Linked DNA regions of Homo sapiens: region 1 is linked to region 2. Evidence: fine-mapped expression QTL. A gene starts in region 2. The other region holds a variant in brackets. All regions are shown on one strand. Distances are between the middles of the regions. Region 1 overlaps NUP214 (nucleoporin 214). Region 2 holds the start of NUP214 (nucleoporin 214).

Evidence for each region.
Region 1: its variant is fine-mapped to the expression of NUP214 in whole blood (INTERVAL, PIP above 0.99).

Annotation. Positions count from the first base shown.
Region 1 is chr9:131,202,656-131,207,048 of GRCh38, reverse strand. All of the region lies in intron 30 of NUP214 (nucleoporin 214), which reads right to left. Among named protein-coding and RNA genes, the nearest start is that of FAM78A, 72 kb to the left of the region's middle. RefSeq lists an enhancer at 2,287-2,841. The variant A/G (reference allele first, on the strand shown) is at 2,538.
Region 2 is chr9:131,123,166-131,127,558 of GRCh38, reverse strand. It overlaps NUP214 (nucleoporin 214), which reads right to left and starts at 1,973. Exons shown (of 36, transcript NM_005085.4): 1 at 1,810-1,973; 2 at 1-35. The coding sequence starts at 1,854. It also overlaps the pseudogene RNU6-881P. RefSeq lists an enhancer at 1,775-2,074.

The DNA of each region.
Region 1 (4,393 bases), 79 kb before region 2:
GAAAGTTCATTCATTTCCACAATGCCTATCATGTGCCAGACATAGTCCTAAGCATTGGAGATACAGCAATCAATAAAAACAATAAGGCCCCTGCCATCATAGAAAAAACCTTGATTTCAATCTTTGGCCCTTCCAATTGCATACATAATTTCCGTGGTGGAAGAATACGGAGTGGAAGGGGAAGTAACAATATGGAGTTTATCACAGTGATGTTTTCTATTTCTTTGGCTCAACATTGTGCTTGTTAGTTATACATGGAGCTGAAATCTGCTCCTTTTCATAGCTGGATAATATTCTACTATGAGACCAGGTATGGTGTCTCATGCCTGTAATCTCATCAGCACTTTGGGAGGTCCAGGTGGGAGGATCACTTGGGCCAGGAGTTACAGACCAGCCTAGACAATACGGTGAGACCCCATCTCTACAAAAAACTGAAAAAATTAGTTGGGCGTGGTGGTGCACCTGTGGACCTAGCTATTCTGGAGAACTGATAGGAGGACTGCTTGAGCCCAGGAGATCAAGGCTGCAGTTACCTGTGACTGTGCCACTGCACTCCACCCTGGGTGACAGAGTGAGATCCTGTCTCAAAAAAAAAGAAAAGAGGGTTGGGCACAGTGGCTCATGTCTCTAATCTCAGCACTTTGGGAGGCCGAGGCAGGCAGATTGCTTAAGCCCAGGAGTTCAAGACCAGCCTGGGCAACATGTGAAACCCCGTCTCTACAAAAAAATACAAAAAATTAGCCAGGCACAGTGTGTGCACCTGTAGTCTCAGCTACTTGGGTAGCTAAGGCAGGAGAATCACTTGAGCCTGGGAGGCAAAGGTTGCAGTGAGTGGAGATCGCATCACTGCACTCCAGCCTTGACGACAGGAGTAAAACCCTGTCTCAAAAAAAAAAAAAAGAAAAAAGAAAAAAATTCTATGTGGAATAATGTAAATTTACCTACCCATATGAATGCTGACAAACATTTGGGCTGCTTCTAGTTGTAAGCTATTATAACAATGTTGCTATGAATACACTTGTATCCTGATACATACGTGCACGAATTTCTTTAAAAAACAAATTTAGGCTGGGCATGGTGGCTCATGACTGTAATCCCAGCACTTTGGGAAGTCGAGGTGGGCAGATCACCTGAGTTCAGGAGTTCAAGGCCAGCCTGGCCAACATGGCGAAACCCTGTCTCTACTAAAAATACAAAAATTAGCTGGGCGTGGTGGTGGGCACCTATAATCCCAGCTGCTCGGGAGGCTGAGGTTGAATCCAGCAGGCAGAGGTTGCAGTGAGCCAAGACCATGCCACCACACTCCAGCCTGGGCAACAGAGTAAGGCTCCGTCTCAAAAACAAAACAACAACAAAAAAACAAACCTAGGCCAGCTATAGGAGCAGTACATTTTATTTCTCTGTAGTATTGGGCTGTATGAATATACCACAATTTATTTATGCATTCTTTAGCTCATAAGCATTTGGGCTGTTTCCTGTGTTTAGCTATTAAGAATATTCTGCTGTGAACATTCTTATCAATATCTTTTGGTGAACAAAGGCACTCATTTCTGTTGGTTACATATTCAGGGTAGATTTGCTGGGCCAAGAGGGATTTTGTATATTAGTTTTGATACTGCCAAATGGTTTTCCAAAGTGGTTAATATGAATTTACACTCTCACTAGCAATATGAGTTCCCAGTTGCTCTTCTTCCTCACCAATACTTGGTACTGTCAGCCTTTTAATTTAATTTGGGTATAGCTGTCTTTCTTTTTGAACTATAGGAAAGCTTTACATATTCTGAATACAATTACACTGTTGGTTACATAGGCTACAATTTTCCTATTTAATGGCTTGTTTTACCCTAAAATTAAGAGGGCCATAATTTTAGTGAGGTCAAATTTTCCTTCTTTCCAAACAGTATCTCTTAGAATTTCTTTTGTTTTTTGAGATGGAGTCTTGCTCTGTCGCCCAGACTGGAGTCAGGTCTGCTAGACATAAATTATTTCAGTATTTGCTTATCTGAAAAAAAGTCTTGATTTCTCTTCATTCTTTATAGATATTTTTTTGCTGGATTTAGAAATGCTAGGTGGCCAGTTCTGGCTTTCATGGTCATTGCTGAAAAGTCTGCTGTCAGTCTGCCTATGGCACCCTAGAAGATAATCTGTCTTTTTTCTCTAGTTGCTTTTAATATTTCATCTTTGGTGTTCTTCAGTATCACTAGGACAGGTCTTAGAATCAGTTTCCTTTTATGCATTCTCGTTTGGCACTTGTTGGGCTTCTGAATCTGTGGATTACTATTATCGATTAGTTTTGGAAGGTTCTGTCTTTCTCTCTTCTCCTTCTGGGACTCTGATTAAATGTGTGTTGGATTTTCTCCTACAGGATTTTTTCTCTTTTGTATCTTTCATTTCGCTCTCTGTGATGCATTCCAGGTAACTCACCTTAACCTACCTTCTAGTTAGGTCAGCAAACTACAGCGCAGGGGCCAAATCCAGCTCACTGCCTGTTTTTGTAAACAAAGCTTTACTGAACACAATCATGCGCATTCGTTTAC[A/G]TATTGTCTACGGCTGCTTCTGCACTACAATGGCAGCGTTAAGTGCTTCTGACAGAGGCTATCGATAGCCCTCAAAGCTGGAAACGCTGACTACCACATTCTGTTCTAGAGCACCACTGCTCCTTTCAGTGGGTCTAATCTGCTCCAAATACAGCCACTGAGTTTACACCTGAGTTTAATCATTACATTTTCCTAGAAATTCTATTTGGTTCTTCTTCAAATTTGCTATGACACTTCTTAAGATTTTATATTCCTTACTGGTATTTTCAAGTTTGTCTTTGATTTCTTCTAAACTCTGTAAGCCCCAGCTGATTTACAGTTTAGGTAGTCTGTGCAAAGGTGATTTCTGACGCTTATTCTGGCTCTTGCTCATAGTTCCTGGTTTCCTTGTGTGTCTCATTGAGGGACAGAAATTACTTGTAAGAGTAATTCGAAGGCTAAGTAAAGTTCCTTTCCTTCAGGGTGGGCCTGCGCTGCCTCTGCCAGACACCTGGAGGCAGCATCACTCTGGAACCATATCAGTCTAGTCAGGGGCTGAGACCTGTCAACATGGAGTCCCAGCTGAAGGGTCTCTTTTAGACTCCCCACTTTGTGCATATCTTAGTTGGTGATTTTTGTCCCTTTACCTTTGGGGTTATTAAATAGAAAATTCACATTTTCTCAGATTAGTAAATGCTGTCAGGGCACAACTGGCTTCTGGGCTCCACTTCTCTAGGTCCCCATTTTCCTTTTGGCTTGGTAAAATACCTTGTTAGTTTATTGGTGCTTTTAAAGACAAGGTTTTTATGTTTTATCTAGCATTTTTTAGTAGTTTTCAGTAGGGAACTTGGTTCCCTTGAATGACTTAGTCCTCTACTACCAGAAACTGGAAATCAGAAGTTTCACTTCTCTCTTAAGAAAGATCACTGACTAGGACAGAGCCTATCTTCAAAGGAAAACAGAGATGATAAAGAAAATTTCTTCCTGAAGATGTATAAGAAACATATATTATGCCTACCACTTTATTAACTGCCGGACTAATACAAATTCTACCTTCAGAAAGTCACAATCCTTTCTGATAAATTAGGGTATCTTTCTTCATAAGGGCTCCTTAGGAGGTTACTATGATCTAAATGATCTAAATGCAGCCGGTGTCTGATGTAACAGTCAATTTAACCTCTCTGGGCCTTCGGTGTCCTCATCTCTTAAATGGCGATAATAATCGCACCTATCTTATGGAGGTGCTGTGATGCTTACATGAGTTAATTTGTATAAAAGACTTAAAATTGGCTGGGTACAGTGGCTCACGCCTGTAATCCCAGCACTTTGGGAGGCTGAGGTGGGCGGATCACGAGATCAGGAGATCGAGACCATCCTGGCTAACACAGCGAAACCCCGTCTCTACTAAAAATACAAAAAATTAGCTGGGTGCGGTGGTGGGCACCTGTAGTCCCAGCTACTCGGGAGGCTGAGGCAGGAGAATGGCGTGAACCTGGGAGGCAGAGCTTGCAGTGAGCCGAGATAGCACCACTGCAGTCCGGCCTGGGCAAAAGAGCGACACTCGGTCTCAAAAAAAAAAATAAGTAAATAAATAAATATAAATAAATAAATAAATAAAAGACTTAAAATTATGCCTGGCACATAGATAACTGCTAGCTACATAAAATCAAACAGCTCAGTTCACCAAAAGGAGTCTCTGGGCTACATATAGCGTAGCAGAGGGGATATATATGTTGCCAAATCTTCTTCCTCTTTTTTCTTTTTAAACAACCACTTAAAAATATAAAAACTGGCCAGGCACAGTGGCTCACGCCTGTAATCCCAGCACTTTGAGAGGCCAAGGCGGGCAGATCACCCTGAGCTCAGGAGTTAAGAGA
Region 2 (4,393 bases):
ATTCTCACCTTCTTTAGCGCTCTAAACTGAAAATCCTGTTGTGAAGAATCAAAACGAGATCAATTCAATAAAGAAAGAAATTAAAACATGTTATATTCAGTAGACCCAATTTCAGTACAACAAAAATATGTATTACTGAGACCAAGGTCTGTCTCAATTGTCTTTTTTTCTTTTTTGAGATGGAGTCTCGCTCTGTCGTCCAGGCTGGAGTGCAGTGCAGCGATCTTGGCTCACTGCAACCTCTGCCTCCCAGGTTCAAGCGATTCTCCTGCTTCAGACTCCCAAGTAGCTGGGATTACAGGCACCCGCCACCATGGCCATCTAATTTTTGTATTTTTAGTAGACACAGGGTTTCATTATGTTGGCCAGGCTAGTCTCGAACTCCGGACCTCAAGTGATCCATCCACCTCAGCCTCCCAAAGTGCAAGCTCACAGGCATGAGCCACCACACTCGGCCCTCATTTTTTTCTGATATGGAACACTTCATGAATTTGTCTGTCATCCATGTAAAGGGGCCATAATAGTCTTCTCTGCATGATCCCAATTTTATATGTGCTGCCAAAGGGAGTGCGAGATTACCATCTTCTAAGTCTGTGGTTCTATTAATAAAACCTTTTTTTCTTCTACCCCAGCATATCTGAGGAATATGACACAACCCCATTAGGTGGCTCACCACAGGTGGTGATTCTCAAAAAATAATCACTATTCTAGGACAGCACGGTAGCTCACGCCTATAATCCCAGCACTTTGGGAGCCAGAGGAGGGCGGATCACGTTAGGTCAGGAGTTCGAGACCAGCCTGGCCAACATCGTGAAACCCAGTCTCTACCAAATGATATAAAAAATTAGTGGGGCGTGGTGGCAGGCGCCTGTAATACCAGCTACTAGGGAGGTTGAAGCAGGAGAATCGCTTGAGCCGGGGAGGTGGAGGTTGCAGGGAGCCGAGATCATGCCACTGCACTCCAGCTTGGGTGACAGAGCAAGACTCTGTCTCAAAAAAAAAAAAAAATCACTATTCTAAACATGGTATTACTATGCCCTAAATGCATTTTAGTGATTTATTGTTCACACAGATGCCTAAAATCTTCCTGCAACTTACTTCTTTTCACTATTTAAAACAGATGTAGCCCGTCTGTTGTACCCTCATTCTGTCAGAACCCATATAAGAACTATTAAACACACCATCCTGAAGTTATCCCTGGGGGACTCCCACGTTGCTATCACTGGGACCACTTGGCCCTCCCTTTAGGTTCCTGACTTTAGGCTGATATACCGAGGTCAAAATAGTCTTCCTAGTCCAATCAACTAAAGGTTCTGCAGGATGGATGACCTTCCCTGACTCTACGTTAGGCAAGCCCGTATCACCTTACAGAAGTACTGGGAGAGCAAAGGTCTTAAATGATGCTGGCTTTCAGCCCCGCGTCAAATGTGACTTTAGGGAAATTACTTTCCGAGCCTCAACTTACTCCTCTACGTTAACGACTACTTCGTAGGGCTGCCGCGATGACTACCACAGTGCCTGGCACACAGTCAACACTCAATAAACAGCAGTTATTGCCACTATTGTGACCGCCCCAGGAAGTAGCTAGGGTAACTCAACAGCCGTGCACGAGACCAGGATGGGACTGGGAAACTGCATTCGGTGGGGCTATCACGCCAGCGGCGCGGCAGACGCGCTGGTGAGAGCTGTGAACGCGGTAAACTGTTCAAGCAGGAGGCGGGACAGCCAGCACCGCGCTTCGCCTTTCAGCTGGGCTCCAAGGCAACGCCAGGACTAAAGAAGGGAGGGAGGCCCCGGTTAGTCTCTGACCTTCATCTCCCGCTCGGGAATCATGGCATCCATCTCGTCTCCCATCGCGCCGCCCTCAGTGTGTCGAAGCAGCCAACGCTGCCTCCCACGGCCTTGCCCACGGAACCCAGGCCGCTCGACAGCAAACTTCCTCCCCTCAGCGCCAGCGGCGCGCAGTTGACCTCGCATTTCCGGCGCGCTTTGGTGACGTCAAGCTTGGTCAGAGGAAGCCGCGGAACCTAGCGAAGCCGCGCGTTCTTCCGGCCGCCGCTCCCCATTGGCCAGCTCGGGCTGAGTAGTGGCGTGGCCGTGAGGTCCCTGCGCCTGCGCCCTGGATGGTCCTGGTGCCGCTCCCGCCTTCGCAGCCAGCGCGGGCTTACCTAGTGTTAAGTCTCTCTTCTTGGGTGGCCCACGCCTAAGCGACCTATGCTTCTTGTTCTTCTGAAATCTTACAGTTCCCCTTAGATGTAGGTTGGCTATTGGTAGCTTCCGATTCAGATAAGTTTGGAACTTGACAGATGTTTTCGGGGGGCTGCTTTAGAGAGAGGCTTTGGACTATGCAAGGGGAGGAAGGGAGGTTCAGAAAAACGGGGTCGGGGGGTCGGCAGGGACGACTCTTAAAGTGTGGAAGGTGGAAGGCTGGGAGGGGAGATTAAAGGGCACCGAAGACCAGCTTTGTTTGCTCCTATCAAGGTGATCCTTTCCAGAGCAAGAGCCATATCCATGTCTAGTCGCACGAGTTTGTGCCAAGTCCTTTGCAAAAACCTTCAGATGTGGGATCTCATGTAATCTTGAAGACATCTTAGTCGTCCTAGGGGTTATTTATTTAATTGATGAGACGCGGGTGGCTCATGCCTATAATCCCAGCACTTGGGAGGCGGAGACAGGAGGATTGCTTGAGACCAGGAGTTTGAGACCAGCCTCGGCAACATGGCGAGACCCCGTCTCTATAAAAAACAAAACAAAACCACAAAAATTAGCCAGCAGTGATGGCATGCGTATGTAGTCTCAGCTACTCGGGAGGCTGAGGTGGGAGAATTGCCTGAGCCCAGGAGGTTGAGGCTACAGGGAGCTGTGATTGCACCATTGCACTCCAGCCTGGGTGACAGAGCCAGGCCCTGTCTCAAAAAGTAAATAAAAGGCCGGGCGCGGTGGCTCACGCCTGTAATCCCAGCACTTTGCGAGGCCGAGGCGGGCGGATCACGAGGTCAGGAGATGGAGACCATCCTGGCTAACACGGTGAAACCCCGACTCTACTAAAAATACAAAAAATTAGCCGGGCGCGGTGGCGGGCACCTGTAGTCCCAGCTACTCGGGAGGCTGAGGCAGGAGAATGGCGTGAACCCGGGAGGCGGAGGTTGCAGTGAGCAGAGACAGCGCCACTGCAGTCTGGCCTGGGCGAAAGAGCGAGACTCCGTCTCAAAAAAAAAAAAAAAAAAAAAGTAAATAAAAATAGGCTGGGAGCAGTGGCTCACGCCTGTAACCACAGTACTTTGGGAGGCCGAGGTGGGTGGAACACCTGAGGTCAGGAGCTCGAGACCAGCCTGGCCAACATGGTGAAACCCCGTCTCTGCTAAAAATACAACAATTAGCCGGGTGTGGTGGCGGACGCCTGTGTTCCCAGCTATACAGGAGGCTGAGGCAGGAGAATCGCATGAACACAAAAGGTGGAGGTTGCAGTGAGCTAAGATTGTGCCACTGCACTCCAGCCTGGGTGACAGAGTGAGACTCTGTCTCAGAAAAAAAAAAAAAAAAAAAAAAAAATATATATATATATATATATATACACACACACACACACATATATATATACACACACACACATATATATATATATACACACACACACATACACATACATAATAATAATTGATGAGGTAAGGGAGGCACAGAGAAGTTGAGAAAATTCTCCAATAGCCCTCAGTCAGAAAGTGGTGGTGACAGGATTAGAATTGAGATCGTCTGGATAAGGCTGACTGATGGTATTAAAGTCCTTCATAGAATACATTTCTGTAGTGAATTATAAATGCTCTAGGACAGAGGTTCTTTTTTTTTTTTGAGACGGAGTCTCACTCTGTCACTCATGCTGGAGTGCAGTGGCGCGATCTCGGCTCACTGCAAGCTCTGCCTCCCGGGTTCACAGCATTCTCCTGCCTCAGCTTCCCAAGTAGCTGGGACTACAGGCGGCCGCCACCACGCCCGGCTAATTTTTTGTATTTTTAGTAGAGACGGGGTTTCACCGTGTTAGCCAGGATGGTCTCCATCTCCTGACCTCGTGATCCGCCCACCTCAGCCTCCCAAAGTGCTGGGATTACAGGCGTGAGCCACCGCGCCCGGCCGACAGAGGTTCTTAACTTGGACCTCATGGGTTGGCTCCAGGGGGGTCGGATTGTGCCATTTACTGTTTGGCTTGCAGCACATTGCTTATTCAAGCCTACTTTTCAGTTGTGAAACAAGGATGACATAATAGAACCTGTCTCTTGCAGGGAGGTGGTTAGGATAAGTGAATTTCAGCTGTCTCAGACAAAAGGCACAGGACATGCTCATTTAATCTCTTACTATATTAGCTAGTTCGCAATTTGCTGAGCCCAGAACCAGCCCCAAA